Linked DNA regions of Homo sapiens: region 1 is linked to region 2. A link means that fine-mapping ties the variant in region 2 to the expression of a gene that starts in the linked region. Tissue or cell type: left ventricle. Region 2 holds a variant in brackets; the other region holds the start of a gene. All regions are shown on one strand. Distances are between the middles of the regions.

Region 1 (8,000 bases), 160 kb before region 2:
ACTAACATCAGATGACAGATTAAATAGAAATATGGCTAATAGAATTATTTTCCTTACTGGATAATTAAGATCACACAAAATAATGTTTGTTAAAGTGCCTTATAACTCTAATCCTCATTAAAAACAAGTAATAATAAATATTAAAAAGTAATTTAATTTCACAGAGAACTTGCCAGTACTTCTAATGACTAATCATAATATTGTATTTAGTTTTTGCTTTTTGACAAGCACCATGTTGGTTGCTTTCACATTAATTATTTAACTGCTCTTATTTCCCATTAATCCCCAGTTTATTACTTTCATTACAGTCTCTGACTTGCTTATCTAATGGTATAAAAGCCTTCTGGTGACTTATGAAATGCTGTTGCAAAGCTGAATTAAATTCAATTAAATATTTATTAGCATGATCTTTCTTCCTTGTTTCTTAAACTTATTTCAACCTGCTTTTAGAGAGGGTTTGTGGCTGGAGGTCAGTTTGCTGAAAAATTGGCATCTAGAAAACAGTTTTCCATCTTTAACTGATGGTTCTAGCATGCAGAACTCAACCCATCCAAAGAATAAGCTGGGTCAGGAGAAGTTCACTATGGGACATGTTAAAATTGTTGCCTACAGCTATGTGAAGATGGCCAGTAGGCAGTAGTCTATAAGGGTATGAATCATAAAGAAGGAGATTAGGGATATAGATAGATTTGGAAGTCATTTATATAGATAATTACTGAAGTCATGAGAGTAGAAAAGAAACAGTGGTGGAAAGTGTTGATATTTAAAAGATAAATAAGAAGGAGAAGAGGCTGAAAAAGAAAGAGAGAAGATACAGCTACAGCAGGGCTGTCCAACAGAATTTTCTTCAATGATTGAAATAGCTACTCGCCATATTTGCCTACCGACCACTTGAAGTTTGGCAAGCGTCATTGAGAAACTGAATTTTTAATTTTTAAAAAATATTAATTTAAATTCAAATAGCCACATGTAATTACCGCATTGGACAGTGAAAGGCTACAGAGTAGACTGAAAATAAAAGTGATGTCATGGAAGTCATCAAAAGAACGTATCTCAAAAGGCAGGGAATGGTCAACAGTATTAAATATTAGAGAGGACAAATCAGCTAGGACTAAAAAGTGACTACTGTATTTAGCAATTTAGGGGTTGAATTGTGTCCCCCAAATCTTTATTTGTTGAAGTACTAACCCCCCACTACCTCAGAATGAGACTTCATTTGGAAACAGGATCACTGCAGATGTAATTAGTTAAGATGAAATCATACAGGAGTAGACTGGGTTCCTTTTTTCAATATGACTGCTGTCTTTATAAAAAGGGTAAATTTAGACACAGAAACATGCACATAGGGAGAATGCCATGTGAATATGAAGGCGGAGATAAGGGTGGTACGTCTACAAGACAAGGAGCACCAAAGACTGCCAGCAAGCCACTGGAAGCTAGGAGAGTGTCTCTAATGCCTTCCGAAGGAGCACAGCCTTGTTGACATTTTCATCTTGGACTTCTAGCCTCCAGAACTGAGAGAATACATTTTGTTGTTCAAGCCATGCAGTTTGTGGTACTTTGTTACAGCAACCCCAGCAAACTAATACAACATGAAAGAGATCTTTGATACACCCTAGTTGCTTTGTCTATCTACTTAAATCTTTAAAATGTGTATTCTTATTTAAATCGTAATCTTCTAGTGTATAGGGAATATAGCTGTTAAAAACTTTGCATTAACATTAAATGTTTAAGAGTAGTCACCTAATAAATTCTAACTAATGATGTTAAATTTCACTTGTACATCTAAAGTACTGAAATATAAACACTGCACTAAAAAATAAACATAAAGGGATCTGAAATAACAAATGATTCCCAAGGGGGTCCATGAGATCTAGTTATCTGGCTCAAACGTTCCTTCACATCGTCATAAATGTCATGTTTTAAAAACAATTATAAAAAAGCCACTTACCTTTGGTTTCTAAATTTTTAGTAGTCATTTTTTCACCTTAACCACTGAAAATGCACTCCAAGACTTCTGCTGAACAACCTAGAAATGTATGCATATGAAATAATTTTAAAAATATCATATAAACACATAGAGTACCTCCAATTTAAAAGTTATGATATTTTAATTGCTTCTGTATTTAGTACGCATGCATTTAGAAAGAGAAATGTCCCTTATATCCCATTCTCACAGAAGGCATTGTTATGTCTACTAAAAGTCTCAAAAAAAAAAATTAGGGGTGGTTTACTTCTAAATACTCCGTTTCACCATCCTCACCAATACACTCTAAATTGTCAGAAGTATGTCCTGAATTTTAGCCAAGCAAAGGGAATGAAGTTACTGTGGTGGTTTTGTCATCCATATGACAAGAGGAATTTTAAAGTAATTACTTTCTTAGGAGACATACCGACACAATTTGTATACACACACACACATATCAAAAAGGAGCTTCTGTTTAGATGTTTAACAAACGACAAAAAATATTACTCAAGATAACATAATTTATACTTTTTTGGTAATAAAAAGTTAAAATTAAAATAGTGTAGCTCCAAAAGTAAAAAGAGAAACATATCGAGCCCATGCTTTCAGAAATGTATACATTGTCTTACAGTACAGACTCAGATTTACCAGAGAACATATAAGAAGGTGATGCTACTGCAATGATATAAATATGACAAACTGTACACTAGATGACAACTGGTTTCACTACAAAAAAAGATCGTTCTCAGTACTAGATACAACTCAGTTCAATTAGTGAACCCGACGACTAACTTTCTTAACAGTCACAAACTTTTCTACACTTACACTCTACTGCTCCGAAAAGAGGTATCCAAAAAACCCTTCGTAAGAGTAACGATCCCTGAAACTGCCCTTGATAGCTGCTCTGCGAAACGTACAGGCACAGCGAGTGCCTGCTGGCAAATGCCAAATGAAGCGGAGGGGGTGAAGAAGTAAGTAGGGGGAGTGAGCAGGTATGAAAGCGATAGGCCGGGAAGCGACAAGCCTGTCAACTTTGCTGTCCGGGGAAGTCGAAACCTAAGTTTCATCCCTGTCTGAAAAAGTCTTCCCGGAACAATCTTTCCCTAAATCCAAAGCTACTGGCCACCGAGCTCCAGCCAGACCTCCGTCCCTTTCCAACATCCTTAGTTATACCTGCTTGTCCTCGGATTTACCTCTAAGATTCTTATTCTCCGTATTTCAGGGGGCTTCACTTGATAGGCTCTTCGGATCGGTATCACCAGGTTAACTTCTCACAGACCTCTTCCATTCGGAAGCCGACCCGCCCAGTCCCTCCGCATATCCAGCAGCTCTCTCACTCCTAACCACTTCCGATTACTCAGGGTTTCGCTTCCGGAATACGTTTCCAAAAGAGCAGGGTAAACAAATTCTGCAGTGCGTATAAACTCAAGTAACACAGAACACACACTGTAAGGCCTCCGTAAGTGAAAAGCGGACAGATTTCTACTTTAAAATAAAATACCGTACAGCAACTTTTGGAGCCCAAGCCGCATATTCACTTAAACTTCCGGGCCAGCTGTTAAACAAACGGAAGTAAAACTGCCGGAAACAGAATAATGGCGTCTCGTAGCCCCAGGCGACAGCGTGGAGGGGCGGGTCTGTCGATTGGATGAACGCAGCTGAGATTACTCCCAGCCACTAAGGACGAAGAGGTGGGGCGGTGGCGTCCCACGCCTCGTGCGACAGTGGGCGGGGCTTTGTTGCCTGAGTAACCGTATGATGGTGGTGGTGGTGGTGTCTTCCTGTCTCAACGATACCTATTTTCTAGTGCTGAGATCCTGAGACAATGGTGAGTGCCAGGGGATGCCAGAAGAACGGCTCTGGGGTCCTACTTACTTAGCTTTCCAAGTCTTCGGGCGGATGGGCACTTAAAGTTGTCCGGTCCTCCCGACCTTCTCCCCGTTATCTCTTTCCCCCTTCCCACGGGCTGTTCCTGCAGTCTCCTCGCTCTCCGTATTTCTTACAGCACCCTGAATTCCACTAATGTTACTAAGTCTCTAGAGTAATGAAACAGAAAATTTAGGGTAAGGCATCGAGTCTAATAACCTGTTTTGAACAAACATTATGTGTTTGCATTGTTCATCATGGCATTTTTCATGTTCACAGATTCACATTAACGCGCTTTATTAAGAGTATGGGGTGGTGTGTATGTGACTGTCTCAACACTGATCTGAATCTCCCTAGATCTTGGAGTCTTTTTGCTTTTCTGAGTGGCAGAGCACTGCCCCACGCCCCCACGAGGGCCATTAACAGGTGTATGTTGGATCAGCGCTCTTCTATCCAGTTGGTTACCTTCTAGGTCTGTGCTTGCTTTTCTTTTCTCTTTTCTTTTCTTTCTTCTTCTTTTTTTTTTAAACAGAAATTTCTCCTGGGATTGCTTGGAGAGCTTCTGGAATTCACTGTTTGGGCTTCACCCCTGGAAATTCTGAATGAAAGGAATGGAGCTCGGTATTTGCATTTTAAATAAGCCTATAGGTTATTTTAATTCACCCCTATGTTTGAGAGGGTTCTAGTTAATTCACTTAACTACCATATCTTTTAAGCACTTATGGATAACGGACTGGAGGATAGAAAGATCTTTAGATAGTTATAGCTATGAATTTAGAAACAGAGCCCTCACCCACCACCCCTTGTTTCTTCATACTACTCAGCAATCCTTTTGGTTACCCCAGTTTTCCCCTGACCCATTCTCTGTGAAGACATTTTCAAACCTTCCCTTTACAAACCCTGTCTTTTGCCCTCTTCATTTCTCCTTTCTAAACATGATGGAGTATAACAGGCCATTTCTTCAACCTCATGCCCCCAACCTACACATTGCTCTATATTTTTGCCGAGCCTTTAGTCTTGTATTTCTAGTGTAGAGAAAGGGATATTAAAGGATAATCCATCCATCTTTGCTCTTGATCTCATTTGCTTCCATCTGTTACATTTCGCTTCCAGTTGTTTTTTTCTTTCCTGTGCGTTCAGCCTTTTCCTCTCCAGTTTCTTCTCTTCAGTGCTCAAGTCACACATCTTATGAAAATTAAATAAAGCAAAACCATGTCCTCCATCCTGTGTTTATCCAGTTATTTCCTAGTCCTCCTATCTATCAGTAAACTTCTTGAAAGGATATTATTTTTACTTATATCAAACAGACAAAAGTCTTCTGTCTGGCTTCTTTAATGGCTTCAAGAAAGTTGTTCTTGCTTAAGTTTCTAATGGCCTTTTAAATACCAAATACAGTAATTACTTCTCAAAATTTACATTACTTAGTCTCTTTGTGACAACTGAGGTTCATAGTCATTAATTCCTTTTACTGGCTGTGCCTGGTTTTTGAATGTCATTCTTTGGAATTAACTCCTTGATTACTTTCATTTCTTAGTCTAGACATTTTCCTTGGGTGATTTTGTCCACTCACATGGATTCTACTAACACCTTTGATTTTGCTTCTAAATTTCAATTTTCCTCTCAGATCTACTAATGCCTAACTCAGTTGCTTCCCGGACACATCTGTCTCAAATGTCCTTCAAACTTAATATGACCAAAACTGAACTTGCTATCTTTCCTCCTGGTTTCTCCTATTTTCACCAAGTTAAATAATGCTACTACTATATTATAACCTAAACTAGAAATCAGAGTTATCCTACATTCCTCCCTCTTCTATTTCTCCCATATTCAGTTGTTCACTAGATCAAATTTTAGTTTGTCATCTCCTCATTTCGTGATTATTTTAATAGTGACTTTTACAGTCTGGTCTGGAAATTCTCCAATCCATTATTTTCTCTGCCACAAGAAGGAATTTTTAAAAACCCAACCTGTTGATTTACTCACCTCCTTAAAACTCTAGATTCCCTATTTCCTACAGTAAAATGTCTAGAATGGCACACAAGTTCCTCCATGAACAAGCACTTTTCTGTCTAGCTTTTGCCTTTCCCTTTCCATACTTAAAAAAAAAAAATTCTCTTGCCTTTTAGCTACTTGCTTTTCATTGAACATACCAAGCAACTTCAAACTGGTAGTATGCCTCCTCTTTCTACTTTGCACTTGCAATTCCTTCTACACAGAATACTTGCACCCTCTTGTTGCTTGCCAAACTTATTTATTCTCCTATTACAGGCCAACGTGTTCTTCTTGCCCACTTCCCAGAAAGGCCAAACATTGAGAATGCAGGAGTTGCAGCAGAGAAAGAGTTTAATGGAGGCAAGGCAGTTGAGTGGAAGGATGGGAAATATTTCTAAAATCCGCCTCCCTGACAGCTTGGAAGTTGTGGTTTTCAAGGATAATTTTGTGGGCAGGTTGGTAGGGAATGGGCGCTGCTGATTGGTTGGGGATGAATTTATAGGTGTTTCCAAACTGTCTTCCTGTGCTGAGTCAGTTGTCTAGGTGAGAGTCATAGGACTAGTAGAGTCAGTTTCTTGGTATGAGGCATGTATCTGGGTGGCATCAGGAGGTTTGCCAGAATGCAGAAGCCTGGAAAATATCTCAAGACCAATCTTAGGTTTTACAATAGTGATGTTATCTAAAGGAGCAATTGGTGAAGTTACAAATCTTGTGACCTCTGGCTACATGACTTCTGAATAGTAAGAAATTATAGAAAAGCAAGGAACAGTAGCTGGTTATTGCTTACCTATGCCTATATTTTAGCAGATTTTAGGTCCCTCCCATAGTCCTAACCTTGCGGCCTTCTATTAGTCTTACAAGGCTGTTTTAGTCCCTAGAGGGGGTCAGTTTTGGAAGGGACTATTACCATCCTTGCTTCAAAGTTAAACTATAAATTTCTCCCATAGTTAGCTTGCCTATGCCCAGGTATGAGCAAGGGCAGTTAGCTTTGTGAGGTTAGAAGCAATATGGAGTCAGTTAGGTTAGATTTCTCTCACTGTTATAATTTTTGCAAAGGTGGATTCACTTCCAGACCCAGTGTAGGTGTCTTTTCTGTGATGCCTTCCTTCCCTACTCAAAGAGGGTTGAGTCGAGTCAGGTGCGGTGGCATATGTGTGTAGTCCCAGCTATTGAAGAGGCTGAGGTCAGAGGATTGCTTGAGGCCAAGAGTTCAAGGCCAGCCTGAGCAACATAGCGAGACCTTGTCTCTAAAAAAGTATAAATAAATACAAATTTAAAATCTATGCAGATATTCAGAGCTTTCCCCTCCACACTGTGAAATCAAGAAAAAAAGAAAAAGAGGTTGATTGTTCATTCTTTTTGTCACCATTTTATGTAGTATACATCTCTCCTATTGTACTTGCCTCATTCGGTTGAAATTATTTGTTTATAGATCTGTCACTCTTACTAAAATGTGAACTGTTGGAGGAATTCATGCTTATGTTGTTCACAGTATTGCCTAGATCATATTAGGCACTCAAATGTTTGCGGAATGAATACAAAATAAGAAAGAATGCGCTAAGTGGTCTGAGAGAATACAAAGTAATAGGGGGCAAATTGTACAATTGAGTCCCTGCTTCTCAGTCAGAGTCAGAAAAGTTGTCATGAAGAAAATGGAATAGAATTTCAATAGTTAGAATTCTATGACCTGTGCAATGGCATAGGGAGGTAGAAAGTGACATTTGCTCAATACTGTTTTTGGTTTTTGCCTGTCTTACATTATGTTATCAAACTTCCCAGGAATGCTAAGGGCAATGAATGAACTCCTGTTCCCACTCCTCCTGCCGGGATTGCAGGCTGGGGCTCTTTCAAATTAGGTGGTCAATGAAGGCCTCTCTGTGGAAAGAACTTTTATATTGAGACCTGCATAATATAATACAAAGTGCAGTGATCTGGAGGAGTCCAGGCCACGCTAACAACAAGATCAAATACCCTGAGGCAGAAAAGAGATTGGTATATTTTAGGAACTTATGGTTCAATGTAATAAAATAATAGAAACTGGGTGGTGGGATGGTGCAGGGGTGGCTGCAGTAGGGAAAATATGGTGCAAAATACCATGAAATGTGGTTAGGGAGGTAGGCAGAGGCCAGACCACACGTATACGTACAGCAGTGTTTCTCAAACTGTACCTGATGAC
Region 2 (8,268 bases):
GTTTGCTTGACTCCCCCAAATCTCATATTGAAATGTGATTCTCAGCATTGGAGGTAGGGCCTAGTGGGAGGCATTTGGGTCCTGGGGGCAGATCCCTCATGAATGGCTTGGTGGCATCCTCAGGGTAATGACTGAGTTCTCACTGTGTTAGTTTCCTTGAGAACTGTTTGTTAAAAAGAGCCTGGCATCGTTCCCTTCTTCCTCTTGCTTCCACCCTTACCCTGTGATCTCTGCATGCCACTTCCCCTTCACCTTCCACCATGAGTAGAAACAGCCTGAGGCCCTCATCAGAAGCAGATGCTGGTACCATGCTTCTGGTATAGCCTGCAGAACCATGAGCCAAATAAACCTCTTTTCCTTATAAATTACCTATCCTCAGATGTTTCTTTATAGCAATGCAAACGGACTAAGACAAGGGGTCTGTGAACTTGGATGAGAAAAAAAGAATCGTGTTTATTTTCACTAATATCTGACTGAATATTAGAATTCCATAAATATAAACAACTAATCACTGTTATAGCTATGTGTTAATATAGTAGTTAACTTAGCAACCACCAGAAATTGCAAACATTTTCACATTGCATTACAATTGTACATATCTTAAAACATCATTTACAGTCATTGCTATTTTAAAATTATAAGAGTTATTAAATCAGCTGCTACATTTTAATAAATATGTACATTATATCACAAAATATAAAATATTCTGATAATTTTATTTTAGAGTAATTAATTTCCTGCAATTCTATGTATTTTATGCATTTAAAAACATTGCTTTGAGAAGGGTTCATAGGCTCCATCAGGCTGCCAAAAGAGGTTCTTAACTTTGTCTTTGCATAAGACAAAATTATGAACCCTAGTCCTAAAGGAAGATACACAAAGGTCAAATAAGAATCCCTGGAGTTGAAGACCAAGCATTAACCCAAGACAGCTTCTTCCTTTTTATTCCTTGTCCTAGTATTAATCCTCCCTACCCTCCGTGTTCCAGGCCTCTGAGGTATTCCTCCTTGTAAGACTTGTAGCCATCCATTCTTTTTCAGTCTCTCAACATCAGCTCCAACTTCCATATAGATATTTGAATTAATTAATTAGTTAATTCATCAAATATTTTCTGGGGACTTACTACATACTAAGTACTATTCTAGATACAGTAGAAATACAGTGGCAAAAGAACAAACAATAAAATCTATCTTCACAGAGGACGTTCTAGTTGGGGGGAAACAGATCAGGAGCGGAATAAATAAGTAAAATATATAATATGATGGTAAGTGTGTAGGGGAAAATAAAGCAGGGGAGGGAAATAGGGTTTTCCAGAAAAGGGAGGGATTTATAGTTTTTAAGTAGAATGGACAGAGAAGGCTGCATTTAAAAGTTAACATTGGATACAGACTTGAAGGAGATGAGGGTGACAGTCACCTAGCAATCCAGGCTGGAGGAACAGCAAGTGCCAAAGCTGGAGTATGCTTAGTATATTGGAAGAAGTCAGGAGGACAGTGTGGCCAGAGTGGAGTGAATGTGTGAGGTGAGGTCAAAGAGATACAGGATGGGAAAGAAGATCACATAGAGCGTGGAAAGCTGCTGAAAATACTTTAGCTTTTACTCTGAGTAAGAAGGGGACCATTGCAGAGTTTGAGCAGAGGACCAACATAACCTAACATGTTTTAACACAATAATGCTGGCTTCCATGTGGTGAATAGACAAAGTGGGGCCGGAGCAGAAGCAGGAAGAATGAATAATGAATGCCAGTACTTGACATGTGGTGCTTTGCAGTGGGCTCTAGAGCCAGGCCGCCTGAGATTCTTCATCTGTAAAATATAATCTGTTTCTTCACCAATAAAACGGAAAAAGAATAAGCCGGTTGTGAGGATTATATCAGCTAATATGGGCAAACTTCTTAGAATATTCCATAAATATGGATTTTTCTTACTTTTCTCAGAGCCTAGGATACATGCTGTGAGGGTACCACACAACTATTTGACACATAATGGGCAAGATGGGAAGACTTGAATGAGTTTTGGGCAACCTTGTTCCTATGTCTTGATTTTAGGAGAGTAATTGAGGAAAGGAAGCACCAGATGTTGCCTTTAGATCTGGAACCTTATTCTTTTCATACATATATGTGATGATGGTGCTAAAGCTCAAATTACATAAGATCATGGGAAAACAATTGACACTGACTCTGATTATAGAAAGTAGTGAATTAGTAAATGAAAAAACTAAAAGTGTGGTTATAATAGTAAGTATTGTTTTTTAAGTAAACTGCAACATTACATTGTCAGTTTATCCTAAAGAACAATAACATAAGCATACTATTTTGCTAGACTAATTATTAGTGTGACAATAGTAAATATATATTTATAGGCTTCCTGCTTTGGTCTTATAGAATAATCTTATAGTTGATCAAAAAATTAGATGGAAAACTGTTTTCAGTATGAGATGTTGGGCCATCCTTGTTTTATGACCTTCAAGAAAGAAAAGAAACTTCCAATGGAATTACACCATCTGTAAAGATACTAAGCTTGCCCAAAGAACACAGATAGCAAATTTGAGAGCTTTGATAAGAGTTCAAAATTGAATAAAATTGAGTCAATAATTATTTATTGAAATGTAGTGGTAGTCAAGGCATTACTAGATTTTGCTTGCAAACTGTTGTAAGAAAAGATAAGTTTACAGACAATGGCAAAATAAATCTGACAGTAAGATAAATGCTTTAAGAGAGATACAGGTTGTGAATAAGATTTTCAAGGAAAGTGCTTACATCTCTGGAGTAAGTGCGTAAGGTTTCCGAGAGAGTGCGACATCTGAAAGAAGGTGAACCCTGTGGAATACTTAGAATTTCTATAATCTGAAATGGGAATCTGTACTTTTAAAATGAGAGATTATGTCACATAGGCATTGAGATTGCAAGGCTGAGTAATTTAGTTTGAAGCATTGGATATAGTATAATAGTAGACAATAAAGCTAGAGAGATATTAGCATCATAATGAGTCCAAGGCTGGGAATTTTGTTACTTAATAAACATGAAAAACCATTGAAGGTTACTGACAAAGTAGCACTGTCATGTGATCAAAGTAAGAGTTATGTGACAATATCTAGTATGGATTGAGTGAAAGTTTAGGAGGAGAGGCAGCCAGTACTGAGGCATTTGAGAAATAAAAATAAAATCCCAAGCTCCCTACTGACTGAACAGATCCCTCACTTGGACAAGGGGACCCCAGAGAAACCTTAAAAGCTAAATTCCCTGGCCTGGTGTGGTGACTCACTCCTGCAATCCCAGCACTTTGGGATGCTAAGGTGGGAGGACTGCTTGAAGCCAGGAGTTCAAGACAAAACTGGGCAACATTGTGAGATCTTGTCTTTTCAAAAACTGAAAAATTAACCAGGCATGGTGGTGCATACCTGTAGTCCCAGCTACTTGGGAGACTGAGGAAGGAAGATCACTTGAGTCCAGGAGGTCAAGGCTGCACTGAGCTTTGATCAAACTACTGCACTCCAGCCTGGTTGACAGAGCAAGACCCTGTCTCAAAAACAAAACACGAAAATAAACGAGTTCCCAGCCATGAGGGGATGCGGGATCAGACACATCTCATTATACCTACTCCTTTGCTAACCATCATTAGCCTTCCCTAAGGGTTAAAGAGAAACTAGCCATTTTGAAAAACTTGCTCCACTGCTGATATCAACCATATAAACCATTGCTGCCCTCCCTTCTGTAGTTTTGACAGGGCAACCCACCAGCATTCCTTCCTGATTAGAGACCACCAACCACAGAATGGTTCTGGCCATTCTACGGAGACTGAGCACAGAGGGCTTTTATGTCCTCTGCTTTACCTTTTGATTTATAAGGCCTAATTGTAATACATTCAAATGTTAAATCTTCACCCTAGAGTGAACATGGTGTTGCAGTCTCACCAGTGCACCACAGTGTAGCAGTCTCTCATTGTGAGGTATCACCCAGAATTCTTTGTCTCACAATCAAGAGAATTAAGGAGCGTGGACACAAAGAGTGAGGTTGGAGTGAAAGTTTAATAAGCACAAGAAGAAAGCTCTCTGACAGGGAGAGAGGGCCCAGAAGAGGGTTACCATTTGTACAGTTGAATACAAAGACTTTTATAAGAAAACATTGAGGGCTGGGTGTCTCATTTGCATAAGGCATGAATTTCTGGTAGCTCCAGCTCATCCTCCTAATGTGCATACAGGCTTTAGCTTGACTTACTCCATATTTCTTTGTTCCCCTTACTGCACATGTGTCAGGGGATGGAATTTTCCATTGCAAGCCTGACTGGGCAAGTCACTTGTGTAGCCTTTCTTATCAGTGGGGCTGTGGGCATGTCTTAGGCAAGCCATCCTGTGCAGTTCCCTTACCTGTGCCTGCAGGCTGTTCTTTTGTTTGAAAGGATTCAACTGAGGACCCACCCTCCCTGCCCGCCTGCCTGACCAGCTTCTTCCTTTCTCTTCTCTCAATGGGACACATGTTTCATACACATTGGCCTACTGTGCATACCCATGCCATTACTTCATGAATATTCATAGCTCCTCCTATAACCCATTGAATATTTATACTTAGCCAAACTGCTCAGCATAAATTTCTGTTCCCTTTACCCCTCCCTCCAATTGCATGTTTCTGGCTTCTGGCCAGAGATTATGCTTCCTAGCCTGTTGGTATGGCCACCCTTCAGACTACAACCCTTAATGAGAAATAAGCTCTCCTTTTCAAAGTTATTAACCTCATCATTCTTCAATGGACACATTATAGCAGTTTAAGAAGCCATGCTTTAGAGAGATTGCAAAGGAGAACAATTTTATAGGCCTTACTTAACTTCTGTAGGCCTATGTCATCATCTCTTAAACCTCACTGAGTTACTGTGTTAGGCTGTTCTTACATTACTATAAAGAAATACGTGAGACTGGGTAATTTATAAATAAGAGATTTAATTGGCTCATGGTTTTATAGGGAGGCATCAGGAAGCTTACTGTTATGTCAAAAGGCAAAGCAAGAGCAGGCATGTCACATGGCAAAAGCAGGAGCAAGCAAAGGAGTTGGTGGTGGGGAGGGGGGTGCCATACACTGTTAAACCACCAGATCGCCTTTGAACTCA[G/AG]AGTGAGAGCTCACTTATCACCAAAGGGATGGCCCAAGCCATTCATGAGGGATCTGCCCCCATGATTCAAACACCTCCTACCAGACCTCACCTCCAGCACTGGAGATTACAATTCAATATGAGATTTGGGCAGGGACAAATATCCAAACTATCAGTTACTATGTGCAGCAAATGAACTATACATGTAAAACACATGACATAATGTGGGAAACATAGTAATGCTGAAGAAATATTAGCCATCTGGTGATGATGGTGATGATTATGCCATTGTTGCTGCTGCTGCTGCCAGACTCCCCAGATTATCTTACCACATCCATTTTCTTTTGCAAACACCATTTCCCTACCTGCCTTTTAAGTTGTGGTGTTTCTTGGAATTCTGTTTTCAACCTGAACTTTGATATTTTTCTGCATGTCTTCCTTTGATAATTCTATCCACTTTTATGACCTTAACCACCACCAGTAGGCTGGTAACTCTCAAATCTTGTTTCCAGTCTAAGAACACCTCCTGAGCACCAGATCCATGTTTCTAACTGGCTATTAGTATCTCTACAAGAACAATCCTACAGGCAAGCAGATCCCATTCTCCTTCCTTGCAAACTTGCTTCTGTGCTTCTTTTCTTATCTCCATAAATTCATTACCAGCCACAGTCAGCTAAGCCAGAAACCTTGAAGTGTGTCTTTGCTTTTGCCTTTCCCCAACCCATTATAGTCAATCAAGTCCTTCAAGATACCTTCTCACCATCTCGTAAATATTCCTTTCTGTCCATTTCCAGTTCCCCTACCTTAATTGAGATTTTCATCACTTCCCGACTGTTTTATACCATAACCTCCTAATTAGTCTCCATACCTTCAGAATTACTTCACTGCAATTCTGTAACCACACTGCTGCCTGAGTAATCTTTTTAAAATGTAAATCTAGTCATATTATGCCCCTGCTTAACACTGTTCTGTGGCTCCCAATGTCTCCTGAGTAGTTAAAACTCCTCAGACAACACTTTACATGGTCTTGCCCCTTTCTGTCTATGTAGCAGAATTTACTGAATCTTTGTTTTATTTATTTATTTATTTATTGAGACAGTCTCGCTCTGTCACCCAGGCTGGAGTGCAGTGATATTATCATAGCTTGCTACAGCCTCTACCTCCTAGACTCAAGTGATCCTCCTGCCTCAGCCTGCCAAGTAGCTGGGACTACAAGTGCGTGCCGCCACACCTGGCCCATGTTTTAAATTTTTGTAGCGATAGGGTCTCTCTATGTTGCCCAGGCTGGTCTCAAACTCCTGAGTTCAAGGGATCCTCCTGTCTCAGCCTTCCAAAGTGCTGGGATTACAGATGTGAGCCATGGCACCCAGGCTTGAATCTTTGTTTATAATGTCAGTTTTATTATCATTCAGGGATGGTGAGGCCAATGCATCAGATGATTGCCATTGAAAAGATAGCTACAATCCCCAAGAGGACAGTGCACACTGCACATGCAGGGCCACACAGGGAAACATGAGGGTGGGTCAGGAAACAGAAGAATAGGGGGAAATATGGGCAAGAGCTTCTATTGTGATTTCCTTGGGAAGGAATGGGTGAGGAAGGGCTAACAAGTTCAGGATTGGCTAGTTTGAATAATTTCAGTGGACTGTAGGGTGTACAGGGCTGTTCTAAGTTGTCTGACCCTGTCCCTGAGGAAATTAGGGCAGGGGAATATTGATCCAGATTGTAAGAGCCTGATAGAGGAGGTTGGAGTGGATGGGGTCTGACCTGGTTGGTTTGCATATGAAAGGCAATCTCACAGGGGAGCCCTTTATTATCTCTAGAAGATGGCTGGCCTTGGGAGGGACAGTCTCCTCAGGGTCAATAAGGCCCCAGATGTTAAAACATCAGAATAAAAAGATGTGCTTAACACAGTCTCTTACCCTCACTGGCTATGCTCCAAGCAATTCTAAATGACTTGAATTTCCAACCACTCAAGGCTAAATTCCTCTACCCTCTTCCTGGAGGGAAGATATCTTCTTGGAAATAATTGCTTATCTCTTAATTTAATGATATTCTTGGTAAAGCCCTCCCGGATGTTTCCAACAGAATAACTCCCTGCCATGTTTATTGAGTATTGCTTATCACGTTATATAGTGATATATAAAATAAGAATTCTTATTTTACACCTTTTCCCCCACCCCCACCAGTCCAGACCATAAGCCCCTTGAAGAATGGGACCGTCATACTCATTTTTTACTTTCTGGAGTTTGTAACCTAGCAGGGTGCTTGGTGTGTAGTTGACTTTCAGTATATATTTGTTGACTGAGATGAAAAATAACTAATGAATAGGTGAATGAATTAATAATGAATTAATAAGTTCTATATCAGTCATACCTGTGGAAAACTCATCATCATTGAATTTCCTTTATTTCCTAAAACCTGAAGAGTTAGGCCAAAGTCTTTCAGTTTTATCATTTGCACTAAGTTGTCATCAAACTAAATGATTTATGCTTCTCCTTCCAACTCTAAAATTCTGAATTTTGGCTGAGTAAACTTTTAGTACTTTTGGTGAATTATACCTTTTCCTTTTACCTTTATATGGCTTAGAGTTATAATGTGCAGTTTTGAAAGTTGCAGCTCTGGGAAATGTGGTACATGATTTTTATTTTTGTAGACAATAGGAACCAACAAGTATAGCAAAGTGGTTAAGACCCTGGGTGCTGTTGGGCATGGTGAAATACACTTTAGACTCAGCTACTTGGGAGGCTGAGGCGGGAGGATCACTTGAGCCCAGGAGTTTGAGACCAGCTTGGGCAACATAGTGAGGCTCCATCTCAATTTAAAAATAATAATAATAATAATAATAATAATAATAATAATAATAATAAAAAAGACCCTGGGTTCTGTTATCTATCTAAGTTCAAATCCTACCTCCACCACTCAGTAGCTTTGCTCTTGGCAAGTGTGGTATCCTTTGAAAACTTTAGTTTCTTCATTTGTAAAATTGTAATAATAATGATATCTACCTCATGGAATTATTATTGTGAAGAATAAGTGAGATAATTTATGTAAACTTTCTAGAACATAGTGAATACTTAATAAGTGTTAGCTAACATTATTGTCACTCTTGTAATAGAGGTTATTATAATTATCACTATTTAATGATACTCTGCACTCTTAAACAGTATGATACTGGCCAAGGTTTCAA

Direction of the effects. Positions count from the first base shown, and alleles are read on the strand shown. Sizes are in standard deviations (SD) of each study's normalised expression.
For the expression in left ventricle of the gene that starts at base 3,705 in region 1, AG is the high allele of the variant in region 2 and G is the other (small effect, 0.30 SD a copy in GTEx).

Evidence for each region. PIP is the estimated chance that this variant, and not a neighbour inherited with it, causes the effect.
Region 1: it holds the start of NME7, and the variant in region 2 is fine-mapped to the expression of NME7 in left ventricle (GTEx, PIP 0.91).

What each region holds. Positions count from the first base shown.
Region 1 is chr1:169,363,502-169,371,501 of GRCh38, reverse strand. It overlaps NME7 (NME/NM23 family member 7), which reads left to right and starts at 3,705. Exons shown (of 12, transcript NM_013330.5): 1 at 3,705-3,794. The coding sequence starts at 3,792. BLZF1 (basic leucine zipper nuclear factor 1) reads right to left here and starts at 3,307. Exons shown (of 7, transcript NM_001320973.2): 1 at 3,160-3,307; 2 at 1,952-2,029. The coding sequence starts at 1,979. RefSeq lists enhancers at 2,728-3,227, 3,486-3,565, 3,228-3,729, 2,669-3,868.
Region 2 is chr1:169,199,131-169,207,398 of GRCh38, reverse strand. The region is part of intron 10 of NME7 (NME/NM23 family member 7); the gene reads left to right. Among named protein-coding and RNA genes, the nearest start is that of ATP1B1, 97 kb to the right of the region's middle. The variant G/AG (reference allele first, on the strand shown) is at 5,100.